Regions from separate parts of the Homo sapiens genome. Here all the other regions are linked to region 2. The links come from fine-mapping of genetic effects on gene expression. A gene starts in region 2. Each other region holds a variant in brackets. All regions are shown on one strand. Distances are from middle to middle.

Region 1 (2,762 bases), 130 kb after region 2:
GTAAGCTGGCAGAGTCCTTTGCCTTAGACACCACGCCTTCCCCCAGAGCCTCCGCTGCTGCTGTGCTCTCCCGCAGGGCTTCATCTGCTGGGCGCTGCTTCCTTAGGGAGTATGTAAAACATTTCAGCTGCTGTTTCTGGGTTTCTGCAAAAAACTGTTTTTACTTTTCAGAAATACTGCAAAGGAAGTAAAAACCACTCTGCTTCTGTCTTTTGGCAAAACCACCCAGATTCCAAATGGGGTAATTTTAAGTTCAATCTCTTTCCAATGTCCATAATGTCCATTGTGTCCTATTATCATTTTTCACAAGTGTATGTAGGTTTTGCTCACCTGATTTTCTCTGGATAGGTACAGCGTAAGTGTACCTAATAAGGGACTCGACTGTCCCTCTCTAAATGCAGCCACATCCAATCTGTGCACAATGGAATTAAGGCCACAGACCATCTAAGCCAATAGCATAGAAGGATCTGTTACTCCTAAAACCAGAAACAGAAACAAGCAGTCCTTTGTCCCTTCTTCCCTCTTTTCAATCTGATATTCCTATAGGAAACTAGTATGATCAGATAGACATTTTAGAAAAGTATCAGCTGGGCATGGTGACGCATGTCTGTAGTCCCAGCTACTTTGGAGGGTGAGGCAGATGGATCACTTGAGCCCAGGACTTGGGTCCATCCTGGGCAACATAGCAAGACCCTATCTCTTTTAAAAAAAGAATCTAAGGGTTGGACACAGTGGTTCACGCCTGTCATCCCAACACTTTGGGAGGCCGAGGTGGGCAAATCACAAGGTCAGGAGTTCGAGACCAGCCTGGCCAACATGGTGAAACCCCATCTCTACTAAAAATACAAAAATTAGCCAGGCTTGGTGGTGCACATCTGTAATCCCAGGTACTCAGGAGGCTGAGGCAGGAGAATCGCTTCAACTCAGGAGGCGGAGGTTGCAGTGAGCCAAGATCGTGCCACTACACTCCAGCCTGGGCGACACAGTGACACTCCGTCTCAACAACAACAAAAGAATCTAGGAAATATTCATTCTACTGTGAAGGACACAGTAGAGGGTCAGGCAGTCCAATCTGTGATTAACGGGAGTTTTACAAAAAGCAAGGAAAATGCTCTTCAGAGGAAAAAGATTT[T/A]AAAAAAAAGTCTCTTGAAATTTCAAAAAATTTGTTTTTACATTTATACTTTCTCACTTCACAGCCCTCAAGGACGTTTTGTTCTGAAGACTCTCATATTCAGCTCTGGGAAATAATTATTTCTCTGATTATCCCTTCAACTTTTGAAGATTACCAGATTTCTCAACAGCAATACTGTGGTCTGGAATAAAAGGGGGCACTTCCCTCAGACTTTGGAGAAGACATTATTTTGAACTAGAATTCTGTCTACAGCCATACTCTCAATGAAGTAAGATGGCAGAATAAAGATGATTACACTAGCAATGAATGGCTTTACTTTCCACACACCCATCCTGAAAACACTCTGCAAGAATAGAGAACAAATCCAGTAATAAAATTAAATCTCAGGATTTCTAGGTCTGAAGCCAACCTAGAAGGCATTCTATCCAAATTAGAACAAACAATGAGAGATTTTTAGAACAACTGTTTACAAGAAGCATGATTAAATGGATACCATTCAATAGCAGGAAGATACCATGCATTCAAAACATTTTTTATCGAGCATTATGTGCCCAGGTACTGTTTAGACACTGAGGATACAGCAGTGAACAAATTTCTTAAGCCTCCAAGAGTTTTTATTCTAGTGGGGGGATGCAGAAAGACATTAAGCCAAATAAAGTGAATTATGTAACAGATTAGAAAATGGTAAGTGCTCTGGATAAATAACTGGGGATGTAGGAGAGGAATTGTAGTTTAAAATATCACCGTGCTGAGACAGTGACATTGAAGCTGAGATGTTAGTAATATAGTTAACACATTGTGTTAGGCCTTCTTGCATTGCTATAAAGAAATACCCAAGGCTGGGTGATTTATAAAGAAAAGAGGTTTAATTGCCTCACGCTTCTGCAGGCTTTATAGGAAGCATGGTGCTAGCACCTGCTCAGCTTCTGGGGCATCACATGGCCAGAGCATGAGCAAGAGAGAGAGTTGTGGGGGAGGTGCCACACACTTTTGTTTTTTTTTTGAGATGGAGTCTTGCTCTGCTGCCCAGGCTGGAGTGCAGTGGTGCAATCTCAGCTCACTGCAACCTTCGCTTCTTGAGTTCAAACGATTTTCCTGCCTCAGCACCTGAATAGCTGGAACTATAGGCACGTGCCACCACACCTGGCTAACTTTTGTATTTTTAGTAGAGGCGGGGTTTCACCATGTTGGCCAGGCTGGTCTCCAACTCCTGACCTCAGGTGATCCACCTGCCTCGGCCTCCCAAAGTGCAGGGATTACAGGCATGACCACCGCACCTGGTCAGGTGCCACACACTTTTAAATGACCAGATCTCACAAGAACTCATTATTGCAAAGACAGCACCAAGCCATGAGGGATCTGCCCCAATGACCCAAACACCTCCCATCAAGCCCCACCTCCATCATTGGGAATTACAATTCAACATGAGATTTGGGTGGGGACAAATATCCAAACTGTGTCATACATTTTACCATCAACAAACAAAAAGGAAAGACAATTCTAGATAGGTTTGTCTAAACCAAAAACAGGTCCAAAGATATAACATGATTTTGAGCAATTACTGCGTGTACTCCAAGTGCCTAGAACAGGATGGGCCATGCAGAAGGCACTCAGTAAATATGTTCTGTAA
Region 2 (2,762 bases):
AAAATTTAAAATAAAAAAAATTGGTCATTTTTTGTTGCTTTAGTTTTTTTTAATCTCAGGGAATTTTTAAATTTTTCATTTATTCTAGGGACTTGGGATACATCAGTTGAACAAAACAGACAAAAATCCCAGCTTCTACTAGGGAAGGCAGACACTAAAAGCTAAACATATCAGATAAATACAGGCATACCTCAGTATCCGAGGGGGATTGGCTCTAGGACCACGACCAGTACCAAAATCCTCTCAGGTCTCTAATATAAAATGATATAGTATTTGCACATAACCCACATATATCCTCCTGTATAAATTATCTATAGATTACTTATAATACAATGTAAGTGCTATGTAAATAGCTGTTATATTGTATTGGTTTTTATTTGTATTTTTAAATTGTTGTGTTTTTTTTCCCAAATATTTTCCATCTGTGGTTGGTTGAATCCAGAAACGCAGAAGCCATGGATGCGGAGGGCTGACTCTGAATTATAAAGATTGTTACAAGGTGGGAAGTGTCATGGGATGAAAGGAAAAATAGTAAGGTAGGAAAGATGGAGAATTTTTTTTTTTTTTGGAACACGTGTCACTCTGTCCAGCCCAAGCTGGAGTGCAGTGGCCTGATGATGGCTCACTGTAACGTAACTCCTGGCCTCAGCCTCCAGAGTACCTGGAACTATAGGTACACGCCAACACACCAGGGTAATTTTTTTTTTTTTTTTTTGTAGAGACAGGGTCTCGCTATGTTGCCCACTCTGTTCTATTTTGAAGGTACAACCAACAAGCTTTCTTGACAGATTGAAAGTGAAAATGAGAGTATGAGAGGAGTTATGGATGATATAAAGTTTTTGGCCTGAGTAACTAGAAATCCTCGCCATCAACCTAGAATGGGGAAGACCATACATTACTTACAGGTTCGAGAGCTTACTTCAGTGGCATTACGCTATCCTTTTGAACTTACGATAAAGTTTTGTAGGCATTTTGGTGGACTGCTGGCTGCTAGATAGGGCACTCATGTTTCTGATTTCTGAGATATGTAAAATACACACCCAAAGGAATCACAGAAGTCTAGTACATGTGTAATTTTCACGCATTTCAAACCAGGTGGTTTAGCCAGCCTTAAACCAGTTAATGACTGATTGAACGATTCTGACTTTTACATGAAAAAGCAGTGGTCAGAGGATGGGCTCTCAACCGCTACTGAGAGACCCCTCATCCCACAACCGCTCAGCACCCACCCACCCACCCTCGCCTGTGCGCGTCCACCGCCCCACAACGTGCGCAGACGTCGCTCCTCCGCACGGATGTCCGCGGCCCGGGCCGGGGTGGGAAGGGGCTCCCCCACGCTCCCGCCCAGGTTTGGTCGCCATCTTTCGGAGCGTCCTTTCCCGCGAGTGCTGCAGTCCCGGATCTCAGGCGTCCGTTAGCTACAGAGGCCAATTCCTAACCCGCGCGGCTCGAATCCCGGGGGTCCCATCGCCTGCCGGCCGATTCGCCCATGCCGGAGGTACGGCGGGGGCGGGGCCTGGCGGGGGGCGGGGCCAGCACTGCGGTCGCTGCAGCTGCGCAACGGCGCCCGCCCCTCCGGCCGCTCTAGGGGCGCGCGCCGCCTCTCGCTCCGCCCAACCCGCGCGCGAGCCTGGGCGGGGAGGGGGAGCCAGGAAGCTGCGAGCGCGCTGGGGAGCGCAGCTGCAGGCGTTGGGGCGGCAGGAGCCGCGGAGCCGGCGCTGAGAGGGGCTGCGGCCGGAGCGGGCGGCTGAGACAAAGGCGACGGTGAGTGCAATGCCAGCCCCAGTCGCGCGTCGGCCGCCACGCCTCGCCCTCTCGGTCCCTTGGGCGGGGTCCCGAAGCCCCGAACCCTCGTCCCTGAGGGCTCTGGGGTGAGCGCGGCCCGGCCTTGCCAGCCGCGCGCTGCGGGCTGTGGGCTGAGCCTGCGTCTTCCATTTCAGGTTTGGGCGAGGTCCTCATGCCCTAGGACCCTGCCTTTGGTTTTTCTTCTGTTTCCTCTGAGGAATGGTTACACGCTCAGTTCAGAATTCACGGCAGGCGGACAGCTGAGGCAGCCAACTGACCGCCTGATGTAAAATGGAAAGGCAGACCCCCCCCCTCCCCCCAACTTTTCACGTCTGGAAGTCGGGAGGGTGGTGCGAGGGGCGGGCGGGGAGGGCCCGGGGTCTCTAGGTGAGGGTTTCGGGGAGCAAAGACACCTGGCTCCGGAGCTCCGACTCTTCGCCTGAGGCGCCCGACGCGTTCAGTCCGCGGGTCCTGCCGCGGTTCGCCCCGGGCCCCGGGCTTGAAAGCCCTTGGCTACCTCGTCGCGGGAGCTGAGCTACTCTTACAGGTTGTTTTACCCAGTGCTTGCAGCTTTAAGTTGCGATTTTAGGCAACGGGTGTGGTAGGTAGCGGCTCCTTGATGCCGCATTAACAGCTGAAAAAGCGCCCCGATCCGCTGACTTCACTATGTGTAAGAAACAACATTGGGGATTCCTCTTTAGCTTGCAATTATTTTAAATGATAAGCTTTTTTAGGGGAATTTTGGGGGGTGATGTGCAGTTTACAAAATCTAAATGTTTCGTTGAAGGGCCTGGCTTATAGTACGTGCTCAGTAAAGTATTTGTTGAATGAATGAATCTTGAAATATCAGACAAAGCTTATCTCACATCTAGTAAAATTTAGGCACATACTCCTTGATTATGATTAAGGAAAGAATGTCGGCAAACAGTATGTATTTTTGATATACGTTTTTTAGTTTTTGTCCCACATAACATACT
Region 3 (2,762 bases), 140 kb after region 2:
GACTTACTTGACAAAGTATGTAAACAACTGTCGGGCTGGGTGTGGTGGCTCACACCTGTAATCCCAGCACTTCGGGAGGCTGAGGCTGGTGTATCACTTGAGGCCAGGAGTTCAAGGCAGCCTGGCCAATGTGGTGAAACCCTCTCTCTACTAAAAAATACAAAAATTAGTTGGGCATGGTGGCACGTGACTGTAGTCTCAGCTACTTAGGAGGCTGAGGCAGAAGAATTGCTTGAACCTGGGAGGCAGAGGTTGCAGTAAGCCAAGATTGCGCCACTGCACTCCGGCCTGGGTGACAGAATGAGACTCTGTCTCAAAACAAAACAAAAACACCACAAGTATCTTAAATATGTGCTCAGTAAGCTAAAATAGAACACAACTTAATAAAATTAGGAAAACAATTTATGAGCAAAATGAGAATATTAACAGATAATTTTTTTTTTTTTGAGACAGAGTTTCTGTCGCCCAGGCTGGAGTGCACTGGCGCGATCTCAGCTCACTGCAAGCTCCGCCTCCTGGGTTCAAGCAATTCTCCTGCCTCAGCCTCCCGAGTAGCTGGGATTACAGGCATGTGCCACCGTGCCCAGCTAATTTTTTTTTTGTATTTTTAGTAGAGATGGGGTTTTACCATGTTGGCCAGGATGGTCTCGATCTCTTGACCTCATGATCCCCACCTCGGCCTCCCAAAGTGCTGGGATTACAGGCATGAGCCACCATGCCTGGCTGAGAAATTTTTTTAAAAGCCAGATTCTGGAGCTGAAAAATGCAATTGTTGAATTGAAAAATTCTCTAGAAGACTCGAAGCAGAAGGAATCAGCAAACTTGAAGACATGACATTTGAAGGTGCTGAATCAGGTACAAAAAGAATGAAGAAAAGTGAAGAGTTTCTAAGGGACTTAAGGGACACTATCAAGCCAACCAATATATACATTAAAAGGGTCTCAAACGGAAGAAAGAGAGAAAGGGGAAAAGACCTTATGTGAAAAATATAATGTCTGTAAATTTCCCAGCTTTGAGGAATGAAATGGAAATATAAATATGAGAGGCTCAATTAACAAGTAGGAGACCTACACTGAGAAACATTATAATCAAAAAGCAAAGACAAAGAAGAAATCTTGAAAGCAGCAAGTAAAATGCAATGCAAAATCCTGAACAAAATGCTAGTAAATAGATTTCAACAGCACATTAGAAGGATTACACACCATGACCAAGTGGGATTTATTCCTGGAATACAAGAATGGTTCAATATAGGAAAATCATTCAATATAAAGATACCACCATTTGCAGAATGAAAGAAAAACCCGCATAATCATTTCACGTGATGCAAAAAAAAAAAATCTGACAAAGTTCAACACCCTTTCACAATAAAAACATTC[A/AAAG]AACTAGGAGAAGAAAATTACCTCAATGTAATAAATGCCACATATGAAAAGCCCACAGCAGACATCATACTCAATGGTGAAAGACTGTGAGCTTTTCCTCTATGATCAGGAACAAGACATGGTTGTCTACTTTCATGAGTTCTACTGAACAAAATACTGGAAGTCTTAGCCAGAGCAATTAGGCAAGAAAAAGAAATAAAAGGCATCCAGACTAGAAAAGAAGTTGTAAAATGATCTCTCTTCACAGGCAACATAATCTTATATGTAGAAAAATCCTAATTATTCCATTAGTCCTGACAACACCAAAAGCCTGTTAGAACTAATAAACAAATTCAGCAAGGTTGTAAGGTATAAAAATCAACAGGCAAAAAATTAGTTGTGTCATAACAATAAAAAACCTGAAAAGGAAATTAAGAAAACAATTGTTTGCATTAGCATCAGAAATTTAAAAAAAAATACCTAGGAGTACATTTAACCAAGGAGGCAAAAGACATGTATACTGAAAACTAACAGAATGTTACTGAAAGAAACTAAAGATGACATCAGTACATGAAAACACATACTGTGTTCTTGGATCGGAAGACTTACTGTTGTTAAACTGTTGATACTACACAAAGCAATCCACAGACTTAATGCAATTGGTATCAAAATCCTAATGGTGGCTGGGTGTGGCAGCTCATGCCTGTAATCTCAGAATTTGGGGAGGCCAAGGTGGGAGTATCGCATGAGGCCAGCAGTTTGAGACCAGCCTCAGCAACAAAGCGAGATCCCATCTCTACAAACAAAAATAAAAAATATTTAAAAAATCTTAATGGCATTTTTTGCAGGAAAAAACCAACCCATCCTAAAATGCATATGGAATCTCAAGGGACCCTCAAGAGTGAAAATAATCTTGATAAAGAAGAATGTTGGAAGAAAAAAGATTGTAAGTTTCATCCTTTGTAATTTTAAAACTTATTATAAATCTACAGTAATCAAAACAGTGTGGTACTGGTATAAAGACAAACATATAAACTAATATACAGAATAGAGAGTCCAGATATAAATCCTCCCATGTGTGGTCAAATGATGTTTGTCAAGGGTGCAAGGACCACTCCATGGAGAAAGGACAGTTTTGTTTCTTTACCCCCACAAATGGTGCTGGGATTAGATATCCACATGCAAAAGAATGAAGTCTAATTTTTACCTTATACCATATGTAAAAATTAAAACGGATTAAAGACCTAAACATTAGATTGAAAACTATAGAACTCCTAGAAGACAACATAGAGGGAACAATTTCTTGACATTGGATTTAGCAATGATTTCTTGGATATGATACTGAAAACACTGGAAACCAAAGTAAAAATACACAAGTTGGACTACCTCAAAATTTAAAACTTATGT

The links. PIP is the estimated chance that this variant, and not a neighbour inherited with it, causes the effect.
Region 1: its variant is fine-mapped to the expression of CDC42SE2 in whole blood (TOPMed, PIP above 0.99).
Region 3: its variant is fine-mapped to the expression of CDC42SE2 in whole blood (INTERVAL, PIP above 0.99).

Annotation. Positions count from the first base shown.
Region 1 is chr5:131,397,013-131,399,774 of GRCh38, forward strand. It overlaps LOC105379173 (a long non-coding RNA gene), which reads right to left. Exons shown (of 3, transcript XR_007058929.1): 3 at 1-2,762. Among named protein-coding and RNA genes, the nearest start is that of CDC42SE2, 130 kb to the left of the region's middle. The variant T/A (reference allele first, on the strand shown) is at 1,133.
Region 2 is chr5:131,262,403-131,265,164 of GRCh38, forward strand. It overlaps CDC42SE2 (CDC42 small effector 2), which reads left to right and starts at 1,651. Exons shown (of 5, transcript NM_001375635.1): 1 at 1,651-1,764. RefSeq lists enhancers at 935-984, 2,113-2,762 and silencers at 1,105-1,174, 1,185-1,234, 1,265-1,914.
Region 3 is chr5:131,401,243-131,404,004 of GRCh38, forward strand. It overlaps LOC105379173 (a long non-coding RNA gene), which reads right to left. Exons shown (of 3, transcript XR_007058929.1): 3 at 1-2,762. Among named protein-coding and RNA genes, the nearest start is that of CDC42SE2, 140 kb to the left of the region's middle. The variant A/AAAG (reference allele first, on the strand shown) is at 1,377.